Linked DNA regions of Homo sapiens: region 1 is reported to be linked to region 2. Evidence: microRNA targets listed by miRTarBase, many of them from high-throughput screens and not tested one by one. Region 2 holds a microRNA gene; the other region holds the end of a gene's coding sequence.

Region 1 (13,028 bases), not on the chromosome of region 2:
TCAGGGCCAAGGAGCAGAAATAGACCATGCTAAGTCAGTTAAATGCAAGGGACTGGTGGAATTCAGCAAGAGGCTGGAGAACAGATAAATAATGAGGAAGATGCTGCAAAATATCTACCACTTGGTGAGGACAAGAACGGGCCCTAGAACACAGTTGGGTTTGTACAGATGAAGCAGAGGGCGTAACTGAGGCTGAAAAGTCCCACTACACATGTGCCTCAATTAGGTAGTGATATTGTAGTGAGAAAATTCACATGCATTTGAAGTAGATGGTCACTTGGGATCATTCCGTAGGCTAATTATATTCCTCTTCTGGGGAAGATATGGAGCTGATTTGGGGCAGTGTTTGTGCCAAAGACAAAAAATTGGATCACTAGGGTGAAGAACTTACATTATGCACAGAAGAGTTGTATTTGAGTCTGTCCTCATGGAACTTCTTGGGGACCAGTGACAGACCTGATGCATTTTCCACTGATACGATCATGGACAGTGTAAATAATAAATCAAGCGTTTGTGGATTTACACCTTCTTACCCGTCCCTGCTACAGGGGAGGAAACTTGAGAAGGGGCGGGAATGTGAGTTAGCAACCCCTTCCTTTCCTCCCTCCTCCCAGCGTTTGATAAGGCGAGCTCAGGTGACTGTATAGTGGGCTGTGGGCAGAAACAGATTTGCTGAAAAGAGATGAGGAAGGCAGACATCCCAAGGCATGTTTGGAACATTCGGGTTAAATGCAGCATAGCATTATTCAGCAATAAAAAGGAATACAGTATTGATATCCACTACAACATAAACGAACCTTGAAAACATTATGCCAAGAAACCAGTCACAAAAGACCATATATTGTGTGATTTCATTGATATAAAATGTCCTGAGTAGGCAAATCTATGGCGACACCTCATTCCAACCTATTTTTCCAGCTTCCTCTTTTTATCTGCCTGCCCCCATCACCCCATGCAGCATTTGCTCTGTCCTCAACAAATGACCCACTGTTCACTGAAAAATCTATGTGCTTTCAGATCTCTACACCTTTGCCACCTTTATTATCTTCCAGTACATGTCTATTCTTCTAGGCCGAGCTTAACTGGCAACACCAAACTAAACTGAACAATCCTGACACCTGCTGAGAGGAGCTCATCCCCACTAAAAAGTGAGCTCAGATTTGGAATAGCATAGAACATCCAGGCTGGAACCAGACCTGGAGGTTATCTAGTCCTAGTTCAGTCCCTTCATATGATAGAGGAGGAAACTGAGGCCCCAAGAGGATGAATGGCCTGTCAAGTCCTGAAGCACACTGAGGGCAATCCCAGGCACGCCTCATACAGGGCTCTTTGCCTTGCACTTCAACCTTTCTGCAGTTTTTTTGTTTTATTTGGGTTTTGTTTTTGTTTTTGTTTTTGTTTGAGACGGAGTCTCACTCTGTTGCCCAGGCTGGAGTGCAGTGGCGCGATCTCAGCTCACTGTCAGCTCCACCTCCCGGGTTCACGCCATTCTCCTGCCTGAGCCTCCCGAGTAGCTGGGACTACAGGCGCCCGCCACCATGCCCGGCTATTTTTTTTTTTTTTTTTTGTATTTTTAGTAGAGACGGGGTTTCGCCATGTTAGCCGGGATGGTCTCTATCTCCTGACCTCGTGATCCACCCGCCTTGGCCTCCCAAAGTGCTGGGATTACAGGCGTGAGCCACCATGCCCAGCCTCTGCGGTTATTTTTGATGGAACAAATATTTATCAAATATTTGCTGTGTACCCATATTTTATGATGTCAGCCCATTCCTTAAAAACTCTTACATGGGCTGGGCACCTGTAATCCCAGCACTTTGGGAGGCTGAGGTAGGCAGATTACTTGAGGCCAGGAGTTCAAGATCAGCCTGGCCAACATGGTGAAACCCCATCTCTACTAAAAAGACAAATGGCCAGGCATGGTGGCACACACCTATAATCCCAGCTACTCGGGAGGCTGAGGCAGGAGAATCGCCTGAACTTGGGAGGCAGAGGTTGCAGTGAGCTGAGATCGTGCCACTGCACTCCAGCCTGGGTGACAGAGCAAGACCCTGTTTTAAAAAACAAAAAACAAACAAAAAAACAATTCTTACGTGGTTCCTCATTATCGTCATGCAATAGGGTACATAAGCCTCTTCATAGCCTAGCCTGTCCCTACAATTCCAGCTTCACTCCTTGCTACTCCCCCTCATATCTGGCCATCCACCATTTTGAACTGGTCAGCATAGTGTAATGTAGTCAACACGTGCAAAGACTTCAGAATCAAAGGCCTGGGTGTGAACCAGTTCTCTCCACTTACTTAACCACATTATCTTGAAAAAATTTAATTCATCTTTCAGAGCCCCTGTTTCATCATCTGTAAAACTGGGATAACAATACTTCTAAGATCATTGATAGGATTACTTTGGTTATTTAAAAAGCATTCCTGTGCCATTACTAGTAATATTTATCATTTTAAATGATGACAATTATTACTTTCCTCAGAAAGCTTCTCTGCCCTCCCCACATTATGGAAGGTGCCCTTATAGCTCCTGTGCTTATCTCCTAACAGTGTAAATTCCTGTTGAATGTTCATCTCTACCACTGAGCGTGAGCTCTTGGAAAACAGGACCATTGTTTCTCGTTCAACTTGGTTAACTGCAAAACATTGATGATAACCAGGAAATGCTTGTTGGTTGAAAGGAAAAGAAGAAAGAAGTAAAGCAATAAGCAAGGTGCTGTGGGGGCCATGAACATGGCAAAGGCAAAGCCCCTACCATCCAGATGTAGAACCTGTAGCTGGACAGACAAATTGCAGATTGCTATCTTTGAGTCTCCTGTAAGGATGAAGTATATTTATGAGAGGGGAAAAAGAACTTTAAAAAAACTTATTTTTTCCTTATTGTGGGCTATATCATACATACAGGAATGCATAAAAGTAGTATGTAGAGTTTGAGGAATAAAATGAACACTCATGTAACCACCATGCAGGAAAAGAAATAGAAGAGAGTTGCAGAAGCTCCACCCTCCCCATATGTCTCCCCTGTCACAGCTTCCTTCCTCTCCCCAAGAAGTAACTCATGTCCTGGATTTCGTGATAATCATTTCCTTGCTTCTCTTTATGACTTTATTGCCTATGTATGGATCCCTAACCAATATAGCTTTGTTTTTGAACCTTATATAAACTGAACCATACTGTATTCATATTCTTGAGACTGGCTTGTGTCTCTCAAGTTTGTGAAATTAATCCATGTTGTTGAAGATAGCTGTGGTTCTTTTTCTTTTAATTACTATAGTATTCCATTATATGACTATGTCACAATTTATCCATCTATTGCTAATGGACATACAGGATTTTTCCAGTTGGGGAACGACAAACAGTGCTTCCGTTAATATTGTTGTATCCATTTTCTCCACTATCTGAACATGCAGCATTCTTTTTGTTGATATTGTTGAGAATTCACTCTACCTCTGGAAGCAGTGAAAGCCCTAGGGGAAGAAAAATTCAAACTAGTTTGCACAAAGAAGATTTAAATAGGTAGACAAGAGTCTCAAAGTGTGCTTGTAAATGTGTGTTTGAAAACTTTGTGTTTCTCAAAGTGTGCTCCAAGATGGCCCACAACAAAATCATGTGGAGAATTTGTTAAATATACAGATTAAAGACCCAGCCCAAACCCACCAACCAAGACCCTCTGCAGTTATGGCCTGGAAAGCTGTGTTTTAGCAAGCTTACCACCGCCCGCCCCCCACATGACTCATGTAGATCACCAACCCTCTACCTTTTTTTTTTCCTTTTTTCGTTTGTTAGCATTTAGTTAAGCTCCCTCCTTGTGGCTTGAAGCCACCAGAACACAGCCTCCCTACCTCCCCCCACATATACACCCTTAATCTTCTCCCAGCTCTCCTGCCGAAGAACTTGGCCTTCGTGACAGCAGGCTACTTTGGGAGTTTCCCTTCCTCAGAATTCTGCAGTAGCCCATAGCACTCCATCAATGATGGGAGCAGCTCCAGCCTGTTTTATTTATTATTATTTTTTTTTGTCAGCGTGTGATTACTCATGTCTCCTGACTGACCAAGGTCCACATTTGTCAAGGTCAAGAGTTGGGCAGAAGCTCTGGTTTCTCTTTAAGAGGTAATGCCTCATAACCAACTTTACCAAAGTAACCTGGGTGACACTCATGGAAGTTGATGCATACCACCAGCATTTCCCTGGCCTCCCAGGTGCTTCCCGTGCTTGGCCAGGCCTTTACTTTCTGTAGATGATACAGGTGTAATGGAACAAATCTCAGCGGTGGGTGCGTTAGGAGAGGAGAAGGGGCAGTACTTTCGTGCCCAGAAAATCAGCTTCCCTTCATATGTCCTCCTTGGGCTAGCATGCCAACAGTCTCCAAGCGGACTCTACCTTAGCACACCTACACACTGCGGTCCTAGTCTTTTGCTTTCTTCTCCACATCTCTCTCCCTCATCCCTCAATCTCTCCCCTATTCCCAAATGCTGCAGAACACTCAGAAGTCTCATTTTAAGTAACTCCGAAGTCTTTCCATGACCCCTAGCAATGTTTTACCTAAATAGGCACTTATTGTTTTAAATAGACTTTCCTTTTTAGAGAAGTCTTAGCTTCACTGCAGAATTGGGCATAGAGTTCCCATATACTAGTTACACTGCTCTAAAAATCCTGTGCTCTACCTACTCATCCCACCCCCCACCGCCCTCTGTTCATCGATCATTGATCTTTTTAAACCTGCCTCCAGTTTTGACTTTTCCAGAATGTCATATAATTGGAACCATACAATATGTACCCTCTTCAGAGGAGCTTGTATCACTGAGTAATATATATTTAAGTTTAGTGCTGAATAATATTCCCCTGTCCATCTGGATATATCAGTTTATCCATCCATTAAAATACTGAAGATCATCCTGGGTGCTTCCAAGTTTTGTCAATTATGCATGAAGTTGCTGTCAACATCCATATGCAGGTTTTTGGGTAGATGTTCAGGTTTCAGCTCATTTGGGTAAACACCAAGAAGTGCAATTGCTAAAAAGTATGGTAAGAGTATGTTCAGTTTAAGAAACTGCAGTGTCTTCTGAAGTGGGTGTACCATTTTGTGTTCCCACAAGCAATGAGTGAGAGTTCCTATTGCTCCATGTCCTCACCAGCATTTGGCGGTGTCAGTGCTTTGGATTTTGGCTATTCTAATAGATGTGTAGTGGTACTTCATTGTTTTTTTAATTGAGACACCTAGTTTTAAAACTACTCTTCACTTTTTTCTCTGTGTTTTGGGGGGGGTCTTGTGTTTTAAAATTTTGCAGAGCAAATTATGAGCAAGTGATAGTGTTCTTTCATTATTAAACATGATTTACAGATATTTCAGACTAACTCTCTTTTTTTCCTTTTAAATATAGATAAATGCAGAGGGAACACCAGAGGACGTTTTTCTTCAACTCTGCACAGCTATTGACTCTATTTTCTGAAGGCAAAAATGCATGTTTGTTAGAATGGAAACAGAAAAACATTAAAAAGTTCATTCCTTAACACAATGTTTCAAGTTAAACCTTTTGTGTCACCGCCCCCACCAACCACCACCTCCTAAATCCTGACAGCACTGTTTGCTTCCCAGCTAGACCTGTGTGAGAGGTGTCTGGAAATCATGCATGGTGTATTTGGGACTATATCAACCTATTCTCCACACTTCAGACAACTGTCTGCACTCACGGCACACACACTTTGTATCATGCAGGCCACACTCAGAGCTAGTCAGTACATGAACAGTGGTGCGGTGCCAGTCTGTGTCCGTTGTGATCACAGGCCTTGCTAGACCCTGATCATCTGGTTCTCCTCTCATTAAGCATCCCTAACCCCCAGTCACACCTTCCTCTTACATACTGTTCCCCAATGGAGGCCCCTGGCATAGGGGACAGCCCTGGGCATCTTCCTTTGGTGTCTGGCTGTTTTGTCAACTCTCATCCACTGGTGGCTCAGAGCCATAAGGTGGGTTGATTACACAATGCCTTGTACATGATATAGAGGCATCAAGCAAGTAAAATTTGACAGAAATTTTAAAATATGAAGATGTATAGCTTTCCCAAGATGATGGTAAAACCCAGGTTAGTCATCAGTAACCTTCTCTATTATTATTATTTTTTAGAAACTTGGAATACTGTCGTCATGGCTAAGAGAACAAATCTGATAAATTGTGTAACCTAGTCTCTTCTCTACATGGTGATGCATTTCAGCAATTATAAATTAATATAAATGACCAAAAGTAACTTAAAAGCATGAGATATTTGCTATTTCATTCATTGGGCACATATCAAATTATAATTTTGATTTTAAATGGTCACCCATGTATTTATTTGTTGCCAAGCAAGTAAAAAAATACCCTAACAAACCTGATGTGGGTGGGAGGGGCATGTCAGTAAGTGGTGTGTTCAATGTGTTTGTTTCATATGGGCCCTTTCCAGGAGTTTGCAAACCTTGTCATACCCATATGCAAAACTGTGTTTCCTTGCATTAAACCAGTGAAGTTTGGGTTCTCTTTTGTGCTATCAATCAGTTGTAAAATCAGAGCTGCTTATATATTCTACTGGAATAACTGCATCTTCCACTCAGTCACTACAAAAAAGCATAGTTTCAGTTTGCATGAATTTTTTTTTTTTTCTTCAATGGCTGTGCAGATAAGGATCCATTTCTGGGATAGAATTGTATTTTTTAAGTCATTTTTTTTTCTTGAAATGGATATGTACAAATAAAATAAATGGAAGACAGGATAACTCTTTTTCTATTTATTTGTAACTCACATCATTCTGGAAAGCATTTGAAGCCTTATTCCAAACAGAATTAGAAGCGAACACAGAAATAGTCAAGATGATTTACGATACGCTTATATGGTTTTAATTTTAGCTATAGATCAGTTTTGAGTTATTACAGAGAGAACTCAATGTATTCATGATACATGGTAACTGTCATATTTCCTCTTTCTCTAGCACTCATTCTGAAACAGAAATGTTAGTGTTTGCTAAAGAAGAAATTAAATTTCTTTGGTTACAGTTACGCCTCTATTAACAAAAAGGGGCATGTTCCCATAACTCCCAACAGTTGTCAAATACTTTAATACTACCCCAAGTTGTCACACTCTCTATCGGGGAGCATAATAAGTACCTGAGCAAACTGGAAAAAAAAAAGGTTACAGGATGAAAATCATCAGTTGTGCCAGAAAACATAAAATGACTCTTTGTAGGGATTGACATTCTTGAAACACATACCATATACTGGCAGACACAGTCCATGCCCAGCACAGCTCTGACTGCACAGGTAAGGAAAATGAGACAGCAGAGGGGCAGAAAGGTCCAGCCATCTTTTACAGGCTTCTACGGCTGTAGCTGACAGCCACCTTGAAAAATTTAGCAAGGGTAAATGGCTTTGCCCCTGAAGAGTATCTAGAAGTGCAAATCAACTCTTCTCTAGAACACATTACTGATTTGAATGGCTTGAAATGATATCACTACTTTAAAGTCATAAGATTTTAATACTGGAAAAGACCTTAGAGGTCTCTGTCTAGCGAAAGACCTGTGTGTATGTAGAAGACATCAGAACACAATCTAAACTCCTTTACAATGATGTGTTTTCAAGGCCACATCTGAGCTGGCTTGTGCCCTCTTCGACGCCATCAACTACTACTCTCCTCTTGCTCATTTGGCTTAAGCTACTCTGGCCATCTTAATGTTGCCAGAACAAGCCACGGTCTACTGGCTCAGGGCCCGTGTGCTACTGCTATCCTTCTGCCCCTTCCTACAGATTATTCATGCAGCAAATTCCCTTGCTCTATTCTGGTTTCTATTTGAATTTACCCTGGCCAATAGAGGATTTCTTTGCTTATTCCATCTAAAATGGCAGACTATTCCCCATTCTCCCATTATTATTTTTCTCTGAGCATTACTTATCTTCAAAGCATTTATCCCTGCCTGAATTGAAGTAATAGTTTTTATTTACTTACTTATTGCTGGTCTTCTGCATTAGATTATAACCTCCATAAGGACACGGCTTGGTATCTCCAGTCCCACACACAGTAATTATTATTGAGAGCTAACATATTTAACATACTCTCTGCACCTCCAGTTTTCTCATGTATACAATGGAGAACATAATAGTAATGAACCTCATAGAGGAACTGAGGATTAAACAAAAGTTAGTAAGACACACGAATCATTTACTAGCTCCTAATGTGCAATGAAAGGTAGTTCTTTGTCAACACTTACTGAGTGCTTCACTTCCACAACTGGGACTAAGACCCAGAATTTTCACTCCAGTGTCCTTTCCATTACCTTGCTTTTTTTTTTTTTTTTTTTTGAGACAGCGTTCTCCCCCAGGCTATTATGCCATGGCACCATCTCGGCTTACTGCAGCCTCAACGTCCCAAGTTCAGGTGATTCCCCCAAACTCAGCCTCCCGAGTAGCTGAGACTACAGCCACGTGCCACCATGCCCATTTGTTTGTATTTTAAGTAAAGACAGGGTTTTGCCATGTTGCCCAGGCTGGTCTCAAACTCCTGGGCTCAAGCAATCTACCTGCCTCGGCTTCCCAAAGTGTTGGGATTACAGACGTGAGCCACCATGCCCAGCCCCATTACACTACTCTTAAAAACATGGAAGAGAATCAAGATACACAGCCTATCTAGGGTCCCACAGAGAACCAAAACCACCTCTGCCACCCAGGGTTGAATCACAGCCTTTGGGTAAGATAGAGTCCAATTCCCCTGTCCTCTCACAGAACTGTCAAGATGACCTTCTGATGCAAGGCCTCTAAGGATCTCACAGACACACTCAATCATAGGTGGTGTCTCTCAAGTTCCTGGAGGAAAAAAATGTAAACTCACCAAAATGTTGGTCATACAACCAACACATATTTATTGAGAATCTATTAAATGCCAGGCCCTAGAGATACAGACAGACATGGATCGTCTCTGTTCTCATGGAGCTAAATGTATTATAACTCTGAAAACTCTAGTTAACTAGCTACATTAACTGTAGAAAAAAAAAGTTGTATCTTTTTTCTGGGATCATATAAATAGAAGAACATTTTTCATCAAGAAATAAAAACAGTTTACAGCCTAAACAGAACAATGTCTTCATAAGCTTGTGGAAAACCCTACTGAAATCTGAAGACTTCCAATCCCATCCAGTGCATCTATAGATGAACAACAGGCTTCAAACTTCAATATCCACAATAAGAAATAGTTTTATATAGCACACAACACATATTTATGATTGAAAAAGACATTTCACAAAACAATATTTATCTTTATTACATGTGATGTACCATTTTCTCTATTCCATTTTTTCAAATGTTCATACCTAGTAAATTTTTGTGTTCTGTGAATCAATTTAAACAAAAAGGGGAAGGGGGGAAAACAGACAAGGCATACTATTAGGTTAAGTGAGAAGCACCCAACATGCATAGAAGAAAATCCTACCCAAGGCAGGAAACACAAGCCTTAGTCCCAGCTTTGCCTGAGACTTTGCAAGCCTGGACATATGCTCAGGTTTGTACTCTTAGGAAGCACACCACATCAGGAAAACAGAATGTAAGGCAACATCTGCACACCTCCACTCCTAACACCTAGTGTTGCCTGACACAAGGGGAAATTCCTGCTCAGGAAACAGGATAGTAAGGCAGACGCTGACTCTGAAGTAATCTGCCTAGGTTAAAATCCAAGCATGACCACTTTACTAACTATACGACCTTGGGCAGGTTAATTAACTTCTCTCTGGCGAGATTTCCTCATATGACAACAGGATAATAAATGACCCTGCCTCATAGAGTTGTTAAGAATTAGTTATCATATGCTTGCTTGGCACATAGTAAACACTGTATCAGTGTTTTCTATTATTATGCATCACACAAAAGGAAACCTCCTCTACCTAAATCTTACAACAATGGTTTTAGATATTAAAAGTTTCTTAAGATGTGCAAATAACTTGAGCACAATATATCAGGAAATAGATCTTATCTACTGAATACCACTGAATAAGCAATGCTTTAGCAAGTAGGTCTTTTACAGTCTGTTTTAGCTTACAGTCCAATAATTCTATGTAGGCAGATGGTAGCCTACCGGCAAATGACAGCTCTGCCCATTATTCCTGCAACTCTCAAATTAAAACAATAACAAAACACTACCTACTACTATCTGAACTTCAGGGCCTTTTAAAGCCATGGGGGCTGTTTCCTTGGAGCTGAAAAATGCAAAACAAACACATCTTCTGCTCAAGCCGAAAAATCTTCTTAACTCAAAAATCTCAAAAAATGTTTGCCCTAGAAAAATGCATTCAAATGGTTTGTCTATTCCATTTATATAACAATTGTATCACTCATATCCCTCTTCCAAAGCATACATCATACTTTATGGAATTTTTGAATGGATCTGAATGGCTTTCCAAAACTAACTGGTATTATTTCTACACAAACATAGAAGTTACCATCAAGCATTACTATCTTGCCTAATTACAAGTTGAAGGCAGATCTTCTGGCATATTCACAAAACATTTAATATAAAAACGCCCAGAATGCTAATGATTCCCCTCTTCACCCACTAATAATTCCAGGGTGAGAAGTTAAGCTCAAGTCCATTTACTTTCCTTCTGTTATGATATATTATATCTATATCATCAGTGATCTTTAATCAATATATTACTTTAAAATTCTCATATTTCTATATTTAAAATTCTATTACTTTTCTCAATTAAAAAAAATTCAGGGTATGATTTTAGTACCCTGCTATGTACTGAAGAGAACTAGTAAATAATGTTCCCTTGATTTAAAATAGGAAAAAACAGGTGATTCTAAAAATTGGGTCAAATATAACAATCAATCTTAGAATATTTATACTATCTTTTCCTATAGTTAATAGTAATTTCCAGGAAACAAGGTGATTTTTCAAAAGCCATCTGTTTAAATACATGGGGGCTTATCTTCATGAGACACAACTAGAAAAAAAATTTTCAACTTTAGTTTTCACACCTGAGCATTAATAATTGCCTTTTTCTTTAACCATGGTCCGTGTTTCCTTTTTGTAAGCTAGTTTAATTTAGTGTTTCAGCACACACTGAGTAAAAATCTTTACCATTTTTTACAGGGTTGCTTAAGATCACCCTCTTTTCCATAATACATTCCTTATTCTTCATAAATGACAGAAAGAAAACTCTTAAATATGTGAAGCAAACCATTTTAAAAAATACCAATTTCTGGTTTTAACACTGGTAAAAAAAAAAATCCAAAATCTAACCAAAAGGAAGTCACAACAAGCATTCTATAATATAAACAGACAGTATCCACATAGTTTATTTCTCACAGTTCTCCTGACAAATGAACATCATTCAAGAACATACTGTATACACAGATAAGAAGAAACATACAAAATGTTTTAAATGATGCACAACAAAATCCAGCAGTATAAAAGAATGCATGTGAACCCTTGCTCACTGTGCAGACTAAATTTAATCACTTGTTTAAATAGTAATAAAAATACAATCTTTTATGGATCTTGTGCAGACTACAAAAGAGGGAAATTATTACCATATATATGATTTTTATATTAGGCAGTTTTCTTTGATGAGTTGTACTGACAACTCCAAATACAGAGGCAGAAGGCTGTGTATTTTAAAGGAATTAATGTTGTGAATTAGAAACTTTACACAGTTACTACCACTGGCACTTTTCACCATAGTTTGTACACATCACATGATCATCTTATATAACATTACATTTAAAAAATATATCTGAGTGACAATTTTATAACATTCACACACCATGAGCTGGTTAAGGAAGCAATGCCACAGTTGCCTCCTGTAGTGCTTCACTGTTGGTAATTAAGGACAATTCATTGTGGTTAAAAGAAATTAGATATCAATATGATTAAGCAGCTCCAATTTACTAAAGGCCATCAATGACCACCACTGGGACAGTGAGTTCTTTTAAAGTGTATATCCTAGAAGCAAACACCATCATTGGTTAAAACTTTGTCTAAAGAAGTCAGTTTCTGTGCTGAAAACTATTTTCACAAAACTGAAGGCTACTAAACTGTTTTAATATAAATACTTTGTCTTCTCATTATCATATTTATGACCAAGTTCTTTGAAACCTTTGGAATTTACTCTCTCTTTAATGTGTGCTCTCGTTCCATCTCACCCATTTAAGATCACCACCTAAAACGCAGTGGTGAAAAATTCACCAGGGAAACCTTTGCTCACCAGGAATGTTCAGCTGCTGAACAGTGATCTAGAGCCACAACGGTGCAGAGCTGTACTTGACGAGAACACTCAGGAAGCTCTCATGCTGTGAGTGTCATTTCTGGGAAAGCAGAGAATCTTTCCAAACTGTGCACATAATTAACAATGATACCATTGCTATGTGTTGAAGAGGACTAGTAAATGATGTTCTCTTCCATGTCATCTGTTTGCTGGAAAGTAGTTTGGGTCAAGGTAATTGTAACTGGTGCCCTGAGACACACAGTAGTCTCTGTCTAAGAATGTCTCTGACCTATAAATAGGTTCTAATTGGTGATCTTCCTTGTGAATATCTGTTTCATGTAGACTGTAAAGAAAAAAAGACACACATCATTACATGGTAGTGGATGCATTTTAGTCTGTGTATTACAAAGCTTCCTCACAGCTCTCCCTGTTTAAATCCATTAATCTATCAAAATCTCCAACGGAAAGTTACTTGACATGTGGTATGATTACAGAAAAAAATTAATTGCCTAGAACAACAAAATTTAATTCACTAAGTGTGGGTATTAATATTTTCTATGTTTGGAAATCAAATTCACTAATGGCTGAGAAGCTCTTTTCTTGTCTAAGTTGAAGACTGACAATGAAGAAAACACTTACCAGTCTGAACAAGAATCACAGAAATCCAAAGACATTTCTGGAGGACAATCCTGGCAATGCCACCGAACACCCTGGATGGGTTCTATGCCACAGTTATCACACTATAACAGATTCAGAGAGAAAATGTATTAAGTTATACTGTTCCACGATCTTTTTTATTTTCCACAAGG
Region 2 (17,613 bases):
TTGCTGAAACATAACAAGAGTCACCTTTACTCAAGTTCCCAACAAGTTCCTCTTCTCCATCTGAGACCCCCTCTGCCTGGATTTCATTGTCCCATATCACTATCGGCATTTTGGTCAAAGCCATTCAACAAGCCTCTAGGAAGTTCCAAACCTTCCCACATTTCCCTGTCTTCTTCTGAGCCCTCCAAATTGTACTAAGCTCTGACTGTTACATAGTTTCAAAGTCTCTTCCACATTTTTGAGTATCTTTACAGCAGTGCCCCACTCCCAGTACCAATTTAATGTATGTCTGTTCTCACACTGTTGATAAAGACGTACTCGAAACTGGGTGATTAATAAAAAAAAAAAGAAGTGTAATGGACTCACAGTTCTACATGGCTGGGGAGTCCTCACAATCCTGGCAGAAGGCGAAAGGTATGTATTACATGGTGGCAGGCAAGAGAGAATGAGAGCCAAGTGAGAGGGGAAACACCTTATAAAACCATCAGATCTGGTGAAACTTACTACCACAAGAGCAGTATGGGAGAAACTGCCCCCACGATTCAATTATCTCCCACCGGGTCCCTCCCACAACATGTGGGAATTACGGGAGCTACAATTCAAGATGAGATAGGGTAGTCGGTGTGGGGCACAGCCAAACCATATCAGCAGATTTTGTGTTTTTGCTTCCAGATGTAGGACTCCCCTAAGCATTTCTTGCAGGGTTGGTCTAGTGGGAATGAGTTATCTTTTTTTGCTTGTTTAGGAACAACTTTATTTCCCTTTCACTTTTAAAGTATAGCTTTGCTTTTGTGTGTGTGTGTGTGTGTGTGTGTAAGTTCTCTATGCCTTTACCCATTTCTTATTCTGGAACACCCAAAATTTAAATATTTGGCCACTTTTTGATGTCCCATATGTCTTGCATTCTCTTTTCATTCTTTCTTATTCTTTTATTTTTATTTTTTGTCTGACTGAGTTATTTCAAGAGACCTGTCTTCAAGTTCAAAAATTTCTTCTGCTTAATGCAGTGTATTGTGCTTGATGCTCTTGATTGTATTTTAAAATGTTTCATTTATTGTATTCTTCAGTTCCAGGACTTTTTGTGTGTGTGTTTTTAAATGATTTCTATATCTGCTGAACTTTTCAATCAAGTTATAATTTTCTTTCCAATTTATTTGTAGTGTTTACCCATGTTCTCTTTATTTTACCAATTTTTAATATCATTATTTTGATATTTTTAGGCATTTCATAGATTTCCTTTTCTTTGAGATCTGTTACTGGAGAATTATTGTGTTTCTTTGGAGGTGTCATGTTTTCTTGCTTTTTATTTTTTGTGTCTTTATGTTGATATCTGCACAACTGGTGTACCAGTCATTTTGTCCAATGTTACGTATTGGATGAAAATCTTTCATAAGGAATTTTTTTTATAAAGATACATCTACAATGTGCATTGGGCAGGGTGCTTTCACTTGTACTCTGGGTGGGTGTAGAAGTGTGGTCTCTGCATGATTTCTTTAACTGTGATCAACATCAGTGATGTCTGTGAATTCCTCAGTGGCTTAGGTGGCAGTTGTTATTGGAGGCTGTGGCAAGACTTTCCTGTGGACAGGGGCTCCAGGAGGGCTGGTCCTTGGGCACCAGTGATGTCATTGGTGGGTTGGGGGTGCCAGTCCTTGGGCCCCTGGGTGGTGTGCATGGCATTGGTAGTGGCAGTGGTGGTGGTGGGCCAACCCATGGCTCCCATGTGCCTTGCACAGATGCCTGTGGTGGATGGCTTGTGGGTGGGCTGGTATCAAAGTCAGCTAAAGGTACATTCAGGTATGTGATCACCCTGCCACTGGAGGAGATTGTGTTGCTGTCAGTGGCAGTGGTCCCTGGCAGTCAGCTCTCAGACTCTGGGGAGTACACACTTCCTTTGTCCCCAAGGCAGCCTCCTGCTGCACTGCACCACCCATTTTCCAGAGTGTAGGACACTGTGTGGGTTAGAGTGCTGTTGCTCCAGATGCGCCACTGTGTCCAGCCAGCATTGCAATGCTGCAGCCCTCTGGGTGGATGTAGGGGAATGTCAGTGGGGCTTAAGGTTTGTGGAGGTGCAGGTGCTGTTGGTCCCCAGGGCGGGATGTAGTCTGGTGTGGACTGGGCTCTCAGAATGGCATCATGTTGCAGTTATTTGGGTCTTGGGGGTGTTTGGCATCCAGTGCAAAGTCTCTCCCTGAGACAATGCCATCACATAGACTGCAGGCAGCTTTCTATACCAGTCTAAGGGCCCACGAGGGCCAAGGGGCTCACCTACGGCTAGGGTTGAAAGAGTCCTTGGTGCGAACGTGAACCACTAGGGATCTCTTGCTTACCACTTTTCCACAGTGGGGAGCTCCTTCTCTACATTTTTAAAATATAAAACTGTTCTAAAAAATAAAATCAATTTTTTAAAAGGCAAGGTCATGGAGATGAGTTTACCGGAGTCAGACCTTTAATCTGGTAAGATTTAAATAAGTGGAGCTCAGAGACAGAATCCCCATCCCACGATCGCCGGGACCTGGCTCAGAGACAGAATCCCCATCCCACGATCGCCGGGACCTGGCAGCAAAGGAGCTTGGAATACACAGAGCTTTGACTTACCTTTGGGGAGATTCCAGGGGATCTTGGTCTCATGACTGTTTACTTTCTTTTGGATAGGGAAGAAGCCATGGGCTTAGACCATTCTTTCATGAAACAAGATAAATGGGAAGCCCAACATCAATTTAATATGCCTTAGGGAAGAGGGAAAAAGGTTTCAGATAGAACTTGCTTGAAGCCTGGGTTTGCTGCCTGTTAGCTGTTTGTCTTTGAGCACATCACATAGTATCTCTGGATGTATTTCATAGCTTACATTTTACCAGAGTTCATTGGTAAAATGCAAATAATTATATTAATATCTACACATCAGAGGGAGTTGTGAATATTCAATTATATAACTTAGGGAAATGCCCAGAATAGTGTTGACATGTTTTCAGCTACTAACATTTTCTTTTTCTTCTTTTCTTCCCTTTTGATAAACAGGAGAAAGAGCAAATGAGAGGCAGTTGCACTTTTTCAGGTGTCAGGCTGGAGGAAGCCACTTGAAGATGAATCTACCTCTGCCTTAGGATTGCCTGATGGCCTGTGCCATTCCATGTTATATCTACTGATTTGCTCCCTGTATTCAAAGATTTTTTTTTTTTACTTAATTCTCTCTTACTGACCCTGAGAGTGACCATATTTTTAACCAATTTGGTCTTCAGCCTCAAAACTTAGCTCTTTCCTTTTGTGGTCCCCGAATCCTATCACGTGTCATGGTGGCTGTGAAGATGTTTGCCAAGCCTGCTGAGAAGGCTCATCTGTGGCATCCAAAAGCAGAGATTTCAACTCTGGACCCCTGTGACCTGCCTTTGTAATTATGGATACCCAGCACTGTTTTGAAATATCAGTGGACATCCAGTTTTTAAAAGCCCTCAGAGCTTTGGGAGACACCCCTTTATCTCTCTGGCATGTCAGAGAACCGATTCAACCCTTCTCATCTCCTCCTCCTTCCCTCTCTTGGGCCATCAGGATGCGGCAGCAACTCACTGTGCATGTTTTTACAGCTCTTCTCCAGTAATGCTGCCATTTCCACTGCAGACCACAGGATAAAAGGACCGCTTCACCGTGGCCCAGGATACCCTTTTAAGTAGGAGGTAACTATTCAGTTTCGTAGTGGCCCATACATAAACTTGATTATGTTCTTCGTTGCTCCAATATACTATTTGTGTGTTTTGTTTTTTCCAGAGGGAGAAGAAAGTACTGCTTTGATCTAAAATTAAGCAAACGTTCTTCAATAAACCCACCATGAGACTTGACCACTAATGGTGACCAGCAGTGGCTTTGTCATGGCCCTGCCCACTGGGGGCAGGCACATGCCGGGGCCAGGGCAGGCTGCCAGCTGGTGAGCACGAATAGGTGGCTGGTGGAGCGCATGCAGTGGGAAGGGCAGATGGCTCCATTTTGATTTGTTAGCAGGCCACTTCCTCGGAAGGGGCTTTCCCTTCAGTGGGGTCTGCACCGCCAGCCTCAGCTGTCTTGGAGCAGATGTGTATAGTTAGAGATGGGGACCTTTTCACTGTAAATACTGCTCACATGTTCCTAGGCTGACTTTACTATGTGCAGAGCCTCTTCTCAAATATCCAAATCCCCTCTGTTGGGTACTACAGAACAGATGTTACCCTGCCTCCTATTACATTAATTTACGAACTTTACATATGCTGAGTTACGGACCCTAAGCTGTTGCATGTGCTTGGCTCTTATGTTCCAAAAAGTACATTTGTATGGTTTTGTGGAAACTGTGCTGTTCTGCTTTTGCAGTCTGTGAGATTCTGATTTTTTTTTTCTCATCAGCAATTATCCTTGTCTTGGAACATCAGAGCTTGAAGAAAGGGATTCTAGCAGCCCACCTCTCTCCTTCCTAATCCAGATGGTTAGAGGCTTAGAGAGAGGTGGTGGTTGCTCTGAGTTTACCAGATTCAGTGACAAACCCCTTCTAATTTCTAATCAATCTGGCAGCCTTCATTTACCAAAAGTTGACTTTTGATAGTATAACTTTTATACACCGTGAGACAACTTATTTTAAAAAACAGTTTAGAAATATTTAATTTTTTTTTGAAAGACTTTTTAAGGTCAGGCACCATGGGTCATGCCTATCATCTCAACGCTTTGAGGACTGAAGTGGGAGGATCATTTGAGGCCAAGATTTCAAGATCAGCTTGGGCAACATAGTGAGACTCTGTCTCTAAAAAATTAAAAAAAAAAATAGCCAGGTGTGGTGGCGCATGCCTGTAGTCCCAGCTACTTCGGAGGCTGAAGTGGGAGGATCCATTGAGCCTAAGAGATGGCGATTGAGTAAGCCATGATTGCACCACTGCACTCCAGCCTGGACGACAGAGATGTCAGAAAAAAATTAGTTTTATTATTATTAGTTTATAATAATATTATTTTAATATTAATATTATTTAATAATTTCATATTATTTATTATTATTAGTTTTATTATTAGCAAAACTGAGTGGAAGGCACAGAGATTTTCCATATTCTTCCTGCCTCTCCAACAAACATGTCTCCCTCATTATCAACATTTCTTCCCAGAGTGGTACACTTTTTATAATTGATGATCCTACACTGACACATCATCATCACAATGAGTTCATAGTTGACGCCAGGGTTCACTCTTGGTGTTGTACATTCCAGGCATTTGGACAAATGTATAATGACATGACTCCACCATTTTAGTATCATACAGACGAGTTTCACTGCCCTAAAATCCTCTGTGCTCCACTGATACTTACTCCTTCATCCCCTTGCTCCCTCAGCCCCTGACAACCACTGATCTTTTTATTGTCTCCATAGTTTGGTCTTATTTAATATTTTTTGAGGTTGCACTGTTGCCCCAGGACATCGTATGAGTAGAGGGTTAACCACCTTAGCCAAGAGTAATTTGGTCTGGTGAGTTCTCCACCTTCAGGACAAAAGCATTTCAGAACCATCCTAACAATAGTGTTCCCATAAGTAACCAGACACTGTTTGTATCCATAGCAACATGGCTCCATGAGCCCTGCTTCCGAGGAGCAGCTGCCCTTCCTGGGCACTGTCAAGAGTTGTTCTTCTCTGACATCCACACCCTTCTTTACCTGGCACATACCCCAGCCCAGGCACCAGGCATCCAGGGCCTTCTATGGCTGTCCGGATGCATTCCTTCACAGCTGGAATGTGGTTGGCTTGTTGACTTCTGTTCCCAGCATAGTGAACAGTGGGCACTATAAGCCAGTAGGCACTCAATTGATGATTCTTCAATGAAATAATTGATGCCACTTTTAGGTCAGTCTTTCTTGTACGTTACACCTTCTGTTGTTCAACAGAGCCCCACAATATCCCAGAACTTGGAGGTCTTATCTCGGGGTTTCTCAGATGTTGGAGTACCCAGGTATCACCTGCTGAGCCAGTTTCCCTGGCCTCACCTGCAGGGGCTCTGAGTCAGTAAATCTGGGGCAGGCCCAGTACTTTGCATGTGAGCACAGACCCAGGTGTTTCTGAACCTGGTGGTCCAGGGACTGCTGCAGGAAGGAGCCAATAGGACTGCATGCCTTAGAGGCAGTGGGTCTCATCCATCCCTATCTATGGCACTGACTACAGGCCATGTCCAGGCCACATGGGCACATGCTATTATAATTATTTTGTGTGATGGATGAGTTACAGAACTGGAGCCCTAAGACCTGAGTTCTAGTTTCAGCTCTGCCAGTTGCTGGCTGATTGAAACTGAACAAGCCACCTGCCTTCCCTGAGACTGTCTCTTCTCCTGTGAAATTAGGGCATTAGAATACATGAAGACCCCTTTATGTCCTTAATAACCTGTAAGTTTAAGAACCTAGGGAATCTCCATGCTGGTGGCTGCGGTTATATCCCCTTATCCTCAACTCGTGAAGAAAGAGTCAAAAATGGCAGCAGGGTTGTGTCAACTGCTCTCCTCAGCAGCTATCATAAGGGAATTGCCTTTGTCATTTTCCCCAGCCATCACCACACTCCCACACGGCCACCATCACCTAAACCATCTGGCAGTGGGGGTTACCTCCTAAATCTAAGACGCAGAGACCCACCGCAGGCCTTTCTTTCTGGCTGCCCTCCACTCCCACCCAGAGGCTCAGTTTTGCTGGGCTGCACACCTCCGAGGACTCAGTTCTTTGTGTTTCATGTTGTTTCATATCCACTAGTGTTACAGAAACTGCTGCAAACCAGGGACCAAAAGTCCATAGGTTCTAATTCTAGCTGTGACACTAGTGAGATGAGTGACTGCTGGCAAGTTACTTTATCTATCTGACCTCACCTCCCATGTACAAAATTGGGTCTGTATGCACATTTGTGGTTCTAAATCCTGGAGTCCAAATCAGAGTTCTTTGTGCAAAATATACGTAGCTAGGTCCTAACCTCGGAGATCCTGACTCAGTCTGGGGAAAGGCGCAGATCTTGGGGAGAAAACAACTCTCTAGAAGAGTCTCGCCTTCAGTGAGTGACAAGATCTCTCCTGTCTCTCGGTTCACAATGTTACCCTAACTAATCCATCCTCTGATGTCACCTGCTAACAACTTCCCCTGTGGCATCAAACCAGTAGCCCATTTGCAGCTAGTACAAACACTTCTTTACATTTAAGTTTTGTTTACGAGATTTAGCCTACAATCATAGAGGCTGCCAGCTGGGTTTCAAATGTGTATGTTCCATTGCTAATAGGAAAAACTGCATCTATTAGAAAAATTCTCTCTGGGAGCTGAGCACAGAGGCAGGCCTTGTATTGCAAACATTTGAAAAGCCATAAGCAGGTATTCTGGACTGTGTTTTAGATCACCTGAGAACATTTCTTGAACACTAGTATTTGCTTAGAGTGACAAACCTATTAAGTGGTTCTTTCAGGTAAGTTTGCATCCAAGCAATGTCGTCTGAATCGCAGGAGGAAGTCAGGAGTTGTGTCTGGCTTTCTGGCCATACAAATGGCATATGGGAAAGTCATTGTATATTATTAATATCCTTTGATGTATATTATTATGACTTTCTCACGGTAGTAATGTTGTTGGTTTTTATTAATGTTATTTTTATAGCAATGCTAATATTATGAGCTAAAAGTTTCTGAGCATCTGCTGGGTGCCAAAAATTCTTATAAATGCTTTACATGCATTAGCTCCTAACAACACTTTGAAGTAATTCTTATTGTCCTTACTTGACATATACAGGAATAAAAACCTGACCATTAGACCGAGCGTGGTGGCTCACGCCTGTAATCCCAACACTTTGGGAGGCCGAGGCAGGCGGATCACCTGAGGTCAGGAGTTTGAGACCAGCCTGGCCACCATGGTGAGACCCCGTCTCTACTAAAAACACACAAAAAATTAGCCGGGCGTGGTGGTGGGTACTTGTAATCTCAGCTACCCGGGAGGCTAATGCAGGAGAATCGCTTGAACCCAGGAGGCGGAGGTTGCAGTGAGCCAAGATTGCGCCATTGCACTCCAGCCTGGGCAACAAGAGCAAAACTCTTTCAAATAAACAAACAAAACCTAAGCATTTGAGGGGTTTGGCCTGGGCAGTGGAGCTTGTGAGCTATATGAGCTGGAATCTGAGTCAAGGCTGGGCTGGTGAAAGGAGTTCACTCAAGTTCCCAAGGTATTCTGTCCTCCAGGACTCTGAATCACCTGGGAGGAGAAGGAATTGTGGCGGGCCTAACACCTTTTCTTTCCCAAACACCAAGAGCAGGTTCTTTCTGTTACATCCATTGAGGTCACATTCTTGAAGTGCATTTTGAGGAAGTCATTATTTTCGCTACAGCAGGGACTGATGTATCAGTCTATTAGAATTCAGAAAAAAGTAAGCAAACAAAAAACGTGTTGGAATTATTCTCTTCTAGCATTTTGAAATGTACAATGGTTAATGTTAACTATAGCCACCATGATGTATTGAAGACCAGGTCTTATTCTTTTTATCTAACTGTACATTTGTACCCATTAACCTAATGCTCATAGCATCAAGAAAAGATCAATATTTAAGGTGACAAATATCCCAATTATGCTGATTTGATTATATGAATGTGTTGAATTATCATATGTACTCCCAAAATATGCACATCTAAGATGTATCAATAAAAATAAAGACAAAAATTAAAGCTTTTACAGTAGAAAAAAGGTTTTAGAGAAATTATGATTACTTGATTCACCTAAACTGACAGTCTTGCTTGGAATGAATTACTGCTTTTTGTAACATAGTTTTAGAAGAGAGATTCACATTTAATGTTACTTTGTGCTAAGCACTGTAATCCATGCCTGGGTGCTCACAGCGCTCCTCTGGGACCAGGCATCACCATCTCCTCTGTAAAAGGAAGGTCAGCCTGTTGCCAAGACCACAGGATAAACGGCTTGGCTGATTTAGGAAACCCAGTTGGTCTTATGACAAAACATGCGCATTTGCCCTTCACCAGGTGATTTTTCTGTAGGGTTATCTTCAACAGTCCGACAAAGCTGTGTTCCACCAGCTCAGGCAGGCTGTGACCAGGATCACCAGCCATGTGGCATCAGGAAGAAGGGGCTGTGTGGCCAGGCTCAATCTCTGGTCCTGCAGCCTTCTGCCTTTGGCTTTCTGAAGCGAGCTGAACTAGAGATTGGGCCCAGCTCGGCAGCGCAGTTTCAGGAGAGCCAGGATACAAACCATCCCAGTCTCTGTTCCCACAAAGGAGAAGCTAAACCATTTTTTATTTGCCCATTCTAAGTGCTAAGTGATATGCAACTGCTTCACATAAGCCTTCCAGCCTTCCAGCCGACTCTGCTTTCAGGAGATATCCTTATGTCCCTTTTGCATGGCTTAGGAGAGTGAAGCACGTGAGAATTGAACGAGGGGTCAAGGGTCACATAACACATGAGCACGAAACCGGGACTCTCCTGGGGTATCAGACCCCAAAGCCAGTGGTCTGCGCTTGATCTTTGCTAACGTCCGAGAAGCAATAAGTCCAGGGCTCTTGACACATTATTGTGCATTTTACTTTGGGAGGGACTGTGGGTCCACTCTGCTTTTAACAGGAGGAAATTAAATATTTACATTTGATTCCAGTTTGGCCCCATGACTGTCCGGCTTCTTTCCTGTCAAAGGCCCAAATTCCCTGTTTTAAAGTAGAGGGTGAATTTGTGTAATGAGGATGGATCGGGCACGTGTAGAACACACTCTTTCACCTGCAGATTCACACTCCAAACACAAAGAAATACTGGATCATATATGGTATATTTTAAAAGATGCCATAGGCATACTTAAAAAGCACAACAGAATTCTATTTTCTCACGTCAGAGGGCAGAGTCTTATGAGCTATTGAGAGGAAAACTGTATCTTAGGGGTTGAGAGCCTAACGTCTGCTTGGGGGTGTTTGTGGCCCTGGCAGCTGTTGTGTGCAGTGCACATTAGAACTGAGCAGCTTTATAAAGCCAGGAACAAGGGTAGAGTCCCTGTGTCTCTGAATAGAAATTAGCGATGCTTAGCCTTCTGTACCAAGGAATGCATCACAAAAGCTAATGCTGGGACTGGGCCTGGTGTGGGATAGGAGTCACACAGAGGAGTCAGAACGCCAACTGTGGCTGGTGTAAGGGGCCTCCATTCACACTGTCTTTGCTGTTTGGAAAATCTGAGCAAGAATTTAAGGTAAAAGCTGATGTGGAACAGCTTGCAACCCAAAAGTCTCAAGCCCAGCATAAAAATCATTGCTCCAGTGAAGATGCCTGCAGAGCTCAAGGCATTTCTGAGACTCCATGGGAGAATGATTCCTAAGGAAGGTGTGCCCCCAGCACCTGTGGAGACTCATCACCTTGAGGGCAAACAGACTCTGTAAAAGGAGAATTCACCTCTAAGGAGCTGCAGACAATAGAGGGATTAAAATGGGCCTTTGATCATTCAAAAAGCATTTTAAAGGAAAAAATAAAGTAACATAATCCAAATTCCAACAGGAGACTTGAAAAAGAAGGTAATAACAAAATGGAAAATAAAGTCACTGAAATAAAGCAAGTGAGTTGGACTATGAATGTCTCCTGTCCATTAGCTGTGTCCCCGGCTGCAAGGTCCATGGGGACTGTGCCTCCCTTGACCTTGAATCTCAATGCCTTAGCAAAGTGCCTGGTTCTGGGTAGGTTCACAGTACACATGTACCTCCCAAATGGATGGATTGCCAACTTAAATGTTCATAGGAAGGTGCTATTTTCAGGCACTTCAGGTGTGGACATCGGTGTTGTCAGATCTTTTCTGTTCTAGCCAGGCATTGTGGACATCACCTTACTATGTGAGGGAACAAGCTGCATTGGTGGAGAGGAAACCAGCAGGAGCACAATAGTGACCCATTTCTCTTGTCTTATGCACTGCAGTGGAAATAGCCCAGTGTGCATGGTGGATTTTATTATGGTGCCAGTAGAAAGATAGGGGGTTTCCTCTATGAGCTGGCTGACTTACATGAGCTCATTCTCTGCAGCATTTCTCTAGCCATCTCCTGTCACATCGTTTATTGTGTTCACTAGTCCTGTGCTAACGAGGATCTTTGAAAAATGACTGGTATGGTAATGATCTACGGAACTTACTGTAGATAGCAATTAAATATCGTTAACGGCGGGTTACGCTGACACATTAAAAGGCCTACAGGCTGCGATTTATGAAGACAGCTCTGCTGCCTCCTTTGTATGTGATGCATTTCTCTGGTTTCGGCTTAGGCTGTCTGGTCTCAGAAGGGAATGATTTCCAGGCTTTCCCCATCATCACTCCAGTTGCCAGGCCACCCACAATCACATTAGCAAGCTTTATTGTCCCTATTGCACCTCCTAATGCCCTCAGGGTGCTTGAGGTAGCTTTTATCAAGGTAAGGCCTAGGTCAACATTTTGTTGTGCAGAAAAGGCATCTGCTTTCAGAGGAGAAAATTTAGATACAATATTGAGGTGAATCTTATAAGTGATGTAAGATAATTTGATGACAAGAATTGAGATTATATGCTGAGATCTTACTGTCTTAAACTTTGTTGATTTCTGAAAATAATAGAAATGCAATCCTAGCTAAAGGAAGAGAAGTAGTCTAGCTCACCAGTGGCCAGCAAACTCTGTAAAGAAGTATTGCCTTCATGCAGCAATCTCACCTAATATGAGACTCCAGATAGAAGATAGCTCCTGAGAAGTCAAAACACAAACCAATATCATGTAAATTACTCTCACGTGAAAAATAGACAAGAGATAACCAACCCAGTCCCAACCGTCTCACACCCCCACTGGCCTCCTGCACTCATGGATGCCACATTCTTCAACATTTGTACTTCTGTTAACAGAGTTAAAGTAGAGCAAACATAGGCTCTTTTACCAAGAGCGTATGGACTAAATACAGATGCAATGCTAATAACCACATGGGAAAAACAAGATCCTGAGACACTGTTATGTTTTTCTCCCTCTTTTGTGGCCAAGAGTGTGTGCTCTCTTGCCTTTGTAGATTTTGCTCACGTTTTTGGGTGATAGGACCAAAAGCAGTAGTGTCTAGGCCACTAGGAGACAAGGCAAACCATTATCTGTGAAAGCCTGGGTTTTCTGAGAGGAAGCATGCTGGACACTGCCAGTAGAGGGAGAAGTCATGGTGTGAAGTTTTCCATGATGAGAGATAAGGACAGCTAGGGCATGGGGATGCAGAGGATGTTCTTGTTGTTGATGGTGTTGTGGAGGTTGTACCCCAAGTCTCTGGGATAAGACAGCCCCATGCACATAGAGGTCATGAAAAATGTGAGGACCCTGGACACTGAGTGTCACGGCTTTGGGGACAGTGATGACATGTCCCTGTGTCCAAACAGCTCAGTCAGCTTATCTAAAAGGGATGGAGAGTACTTCTGTGGGAACAGTTGGAGCTGAAGAACAGAGAACATTTCCTTTGATGTTTGGACTCTACGGAATCTTTGGGAATTGTGTTCAAGTCCAGGAGGAATGGCTGAAAACATGATTGAGATAAATTTGCAGCCAGGAGGTTGAAGACAAATTAGGATCTGATTTTATTCAACTGGGAGTAACCATGGCCAAGCATAATTCTTCTGGTGGATTCTGAAGTTATTTGGAATTTGCCCATAAGATGAATTTTCCTGAAGAAGGAAGGATGTGGAGGCTGATACTGAGGCCCCATTTCCACATGTGAACTTCTAAGAAACCACAGCTTTCATCCAGAGTGGAGATGAATGGCACTGGGGTCCACGTTGCCAGAATGCCTGGGGACAAGGAATGAGGACTTGTCACCCAAGGCACGAGATCCATAGTGGCTACGGGAATGAAGCCACTGCCTTTGTGGAAATGACTAATTCACCCAAATCCAAGGTGTTTTCCACAACTGAGAGGCCTGGGCTGAGGATAGAGATTTGAGCCTTAACTGAGACATCCTACTGGGAAGTTGCATCAGTGGTCAGTATCTGAGGCCACAGAAAATGTCACATGATGGTGTGTCACAGGGCTCCACATTTAGGACATTTGTGTACTCAAAGAGAATCTTTGACGACCATGACTCAGAGAAATTTTTAATGACTTAAAACAGGTTTTGGATCATGTTGATGATGACAGATGGTGCAAGCCACCTACCTAAATCCCTCTGGGGAGGGGTGGTATTTCTGCATTGTTCTCAGAGCAGAAATGTGACATGGATGTGGAGGCTCTGGACAGTGAGATGTGAAGCTGGAGGCATGGCTTGGCCTCCCTAGAATGGGTGTGGCCAGGGCAAAGCTGGGACATCCTCAACCCAAAGGTTTGCATAACTGGATTTGAACTCCTTATAGATATTCCTAAACAGTGGTGATACGGAAGGGAGAGGAGGAGGAAAAAAGGATGGCTCTTCATCAAGAGCAAAAGCAAGAGATTCAGATAGGAGATTTCACTTGGCTTTTCTAGTCTTGGGTGGGGACCCATTATGGAAGTGAAGAGCTCTGGAATCTTCCAGAGAAACAAGCATGGGTATCCTTTAACAGGTCCCAGATAGCCAGTTACCGCAGAACAATGTCCTGTTACCAGAAGCTTATTGCAGACCTTGTAACCTGAATCATTGTGTTGGCCCAGGGCACACCCAGGAGGGTGGCTTGGGAAGGAGATTCCAGGCTGAGGTAAATACCGACATCTGATTTCCTGACATTGAGTAGGAAAGCATTTCAGAGACAAGCTCCAAGAGCTTTGGAAAGGGGAACATTCACCCACTTCCCACAATTTATAAGGGGGCTGGCAGTGGTTGTTTTGGGGAGGATAATAATGGGAAAAGAGAACGGGGTATGTTATGGCACACAGAACCAAAAATGAAGATTCCTAAGTAGTAATCTATTAGTGAGGGAATTCTTGGGCAATTTCAAAAAACTCAAAACGTGTTACAGAGAGGAGCCCCTTGGACTTTGTAGGAGACTCGTTTGTCTATCTGGCCCCAAGGCCCAGAAGTAGCTGACAAAGAGACCCAGTTGTCCCCTGGATGCCAAACTTGGGGAGAGAATGGTCCTGGGTGGCAGCCCCTCCCCATCCAGCCTCAGTCAGAGCTCTCCAGCAAGTCAGCCTGCAGGTAGCTATGGAGTTGCAGTGTAGTCCTGTTATTAATGGCTTTCTGCTTTGGCTGGATTTCAGACATAAAGAAGAGAAGAAGGAAAGGTCTGGGTGATCTGCCTCTTCTGATAACACTAAAGTTGCACACATCACCTCAGCTCATATTTGATGGGCTGGGACTTAGTCACTAAGCCACACCCATCTGCAAAAGTGCTGGAAAGCGTTGCACTCTCTGATGACCACATGCCCAGCTAAATATTGAGGTCATATATTCCTATATAATAAGACATAAGCAAAGTGCAGTCACTGAGAATCACTAGCAGTTTACACCACGAGTATCTTCACAGCCCAGAAAAGACACTGGGTTGAGTTAAAATGAAAACTGGAATAAATACAATGAGAAGATAGAAAGCCTGCTGAGAACACTGGGGTACTTGAGTGGAACTTTAAACAGTGTCTTTGCTAATGTGTATGGTAACTGTTCAGATTGTCTGTTTCTTTAAGCTAATTGTTTTCTGATTGTTGAAGCAATAATAACTCATATCTTGCTTGAGAAAAAATTAAAAAGTATGAAAAATCAAATATAATTATCACACTACCAAGAGGTATTACTGCTTCCGTGTTGATATGTATTCTTCTTGTATTTTCTACAGATACGCACCCACACAGACACTTTCATGTTTATAATAGAATTCGAATGTATATATTTATATCTTATAACTGGATTTCTTTCATTGAAATAATTTGATCAGGTATCTTTTCTCTTGGATGCGTCCTAACAGTTCTTTCTTTCTCTGATAGAGCCAGATCAAGGAAAGAGACAGGAAAGCAGATGATTTTACCTGCCTTCCCTAAGTGCACTCGGGAAGAGAAGGATCATCTCAAAAAGGGTTAAGGAATGAGATCATGGAAATCACTTACACACGCGGTCGCGGCTTGGACTTGGCTAGTGAGGCCGGCCTGCCCACTCTGCTTCCATTCACTCAGACACAGCTTGGGCTTTTCCTCCAAGTGCTGGTAGCAGTCATTTATGAGGGAGGAAAGGAGCAGAATAAACACACTTCTCAGCTCCCAGGCACTCTGTGTGTGTAGACAGAGGCTCGGGTGGATGAGAAACCTCAGCACACCCATGATCTTTGTCAAGGCTGGAGACTTGCAGTGCACACTCCAGGCCTGTGGAAATGGTTCCACCTGGGTCCCTCTATTGCTCCTCAGCTGCCACATTAGGGCACCTCGCCCAAGTCCACGTGTGGGATGTGCCTGCCTGTGGCCCACCTAACGTATGCAGTCTGTCTGGAGTGCCAGGCACAGGCTCCTCACGTGGGCTTCAGCTGGAATTGAAAACTGCATTTCTCAAGGTCAGCTTTTCCTTGCCCCACAGGCTAGCTTTAGTAACTAGCAATGTGTGTGCACGTGTGTGCGTGTGTCTATGTGCGCACACGTGTGTGTGTGTTAAGTGAGTGGGAGAAAGGAAGGGGAGGGGAGACCCAGCTATATAAGCACGTTATTTATTCCCAAGTCTGTCCTAGTTAGGAAAATATTCCCTAGGATCTCAGTATGAATTAACATTCTTTAAACACACACACACACACACACACACACACACACACACACACACACACACGCCTCGTGCTCTCCTTCTCCTCCTCCTGACATGATGGACGGCAGGCGCAGCCCAGGGGCCCGCAGGTCACGCTGTGTCCACGAATCCCTCTGGGGGCTCTTCTTTCCCTGGGTCCTCCATGAAGGTCTGAAACAGCCCGGACCCTGCTCCCCATTTCTTCCCAGCTCAACCTGCACCTCCCCCGGCTTCAGGCGCTGAAGGAGGCAGGGTTCTTCTTTGTTAAGGATCCAGAGGGCAGGCACCGAGGGTGCTGGAAGGGCTGAAGGGGGTGGAGGGAGAAGCCACCCTGCCACACAGGCTCCCGTCGGCCCCAGCAAGAGCCTCCCCAGCTGCCGGCAGCATCCTGTGATCCCCGGAGAGATTTTTCATGAGGGCTGTATATTTGGAGAGAGAGAGGAAAAGGCAGCTAGCCCAGGGAGGAAGCAACCCCACACGAATAGCGGCTGCATCATAAATATTTCTAGATAGCAAATAGCCCATTAAAAGCCCACATTGTAATGCCTTGGAGGGGGGCTGCCTTTCCCTGCAATACCCCGGGACCGTCGGTAAAGCAGGCTTTGTCATCGTCTGCGTTTTCGCCGCGGCGCTGTCCTGTCTCAGCTCCTCCTGACTCAGCTGAAGGGGGCTGGTGAATAATGCATCACCTAGGGAGAGGCGCTGGGGCTGCGGGGCACAGCTGAGCGTGTGCAGAGGGAGCCCCTCAGGCTTTCTCTCTGTCTGCCTCCATCTTACCGTATCCAGAGACCACACTAAAATGGTGGCTGACGTGGAGACAGAGGAAGCTCCTTTCTAGTTATGGCCACAAGGCAGGATGCTGAGGTGTTGTCTAGGTAAGAAGCAAATCTTAACCTTGGGTCTCCTTTCTGCACATGCAATCCTGTATGGTGATGTCTCTGACGTTCAGGGAGCTAAGTCACAATGCTTTTATGTTTTCAGTGTATTTTATTTATTATTTTATTTTACCTGCACAGCTTCACCCCTAAAGAGTGTCAGGAAATAACCCTTTCTGTCTGCTTTTCTTTTTATAAAAGAATCACATTGCCTTTGCCTCGTAGGCTCAGTTGGATCTCCAAGTGGCGGTACCGTTCTCTCCACTTCAAAAATACACAGAAACATGTGGAAATGTTCTGTCATCCAGAATGAAAAGCATGTGCACCAAATTTTCACAGACCTGATTCGAATGTAGATAAAAGTGCAAAATCCAGAGGAGGGAACACGCTATAGAAATCCTGTCTTCTATACTATAATTTAATCATCGTGTGCCACAGAATGTCTTTGCATAAATTACAACCACAATAATAGCATCACTTTCACAAAAGGTGGCCTCTAATCGATTTGACTCTCCAAGAGATGGCTGGGTTTTTCAAAGCAGAGAAATGATGACCTGCAGTCTTAAAGAGCTGTTGATTGCACCTGGGGCTCCCGTGGCCGGCGCCCATCGAGCAGCCCATCCTGGCTGTTCCCTTGTTCAGCTGATTTTCTTTTTTATCTTGACATTTGCTAACCGCTTGGTTTTTATTTTCCGGGAAGAGAGGATTATTGGCAACTGGCACCACCCCCATGTCTGGAGGAGGGACGTTTCTAGGATGACCCCCAGAGTGGAGAAATAGCCGAGGTAACCTTTTTGCTATAAATTTCTTCCCCTGCCTCCGTCTTCTGTTCCTTTCCTTCCCCCCATCCCTTGAACAAACATGATTTTTAAATTCCCCTCATCATTTTTAGTGCTTTGGAGTCTTCTCAGATGTGGACGAAAACAGTTCGTGAGCTGCGCTGAGCAGTTCCGGAGCCCTGGCTCCCTTTCCCCGGGGCCTAAGCCCCCAAGAAGAGAGTCTTTTTCAGGACCATGGGAGCAGGTTTTAAAAGGCTTTCTATTGAAGCGAGGCCGTCAGCCAGCCGTGCGTGTCCGCATTGTGGTGGTCCCAGAGCCTTATGGACAAT

Evidence for each region. The annotated mature microRNA hsa-miR-7158-5p reads GGCUCAAUCUCUGGUCCUGCAGCC and lies in region 2 at 9,095-9,118, shown strand. An mRNA with a match to its seed (bases 2 to 7 or 8) in the 3' UTR can be bound and repressed. Matches are read on the target gene's strand: a 7mer-m8 pairs with bases 2 to 8, a 7mer-A1 pairs with bases 2 to 7 and ends in A, and an 8mer does both.
Region 1: the mRNA of ZZZ3 is a reported target of hsa-miR-7158-5p. Seed matches in the 3' UTR shown: 7mer-A1 at 10,235-10,241.

What each region holds. Positions count from the first base shown.
Region 1 is chr1:77,553,223-77,566,250 of GRCh38, forward strand. ZZZ3 (zinc finger ZZ-type containing 3) reads right to left here. Exons shown (of 15, transcript NM_015534.6): 14 at 12,859-12,959; 15 at 9,194-12,562. The coding sequence ends at 12,418. It overlaps AK5 (adenylate kinase 5), which reads left to right. Exons shown (of 14, transcript NM_174858.3): 14 at 5,380-6,744. The coding sequence ends at 5,448. Among named protein-coding and RNA genes, the nearest start is that of ZZZ3, 120 kb to the right of the region's middle. RefSeq lists a silencer at 382-676.
Region 2 is chr2:5,965,568-5,983,180 of GRCh38, forward strand. MIR7158 (microRNA 7158) reads left to right here and starts at 9,095; the gene lies at 9,095-9,165. SILC1 (sciatic injury induced lincRNA upregulator of SOX11) reads left to right here. Exons shown (of 2, transcript NR_026832.1): 2 at 3,019-14,651. It overlaps LOC400940 (a long non-coding RNA gene), which reads left to right and starts at 16,411. Exons shown (of 3, transcript NR_026833.1): 1 at 16,411-16,505; 2 at 16,731-17,290. RefSeq lists enhancers at 8,662-9,163, 10,043-10,696, 15,172-15,918.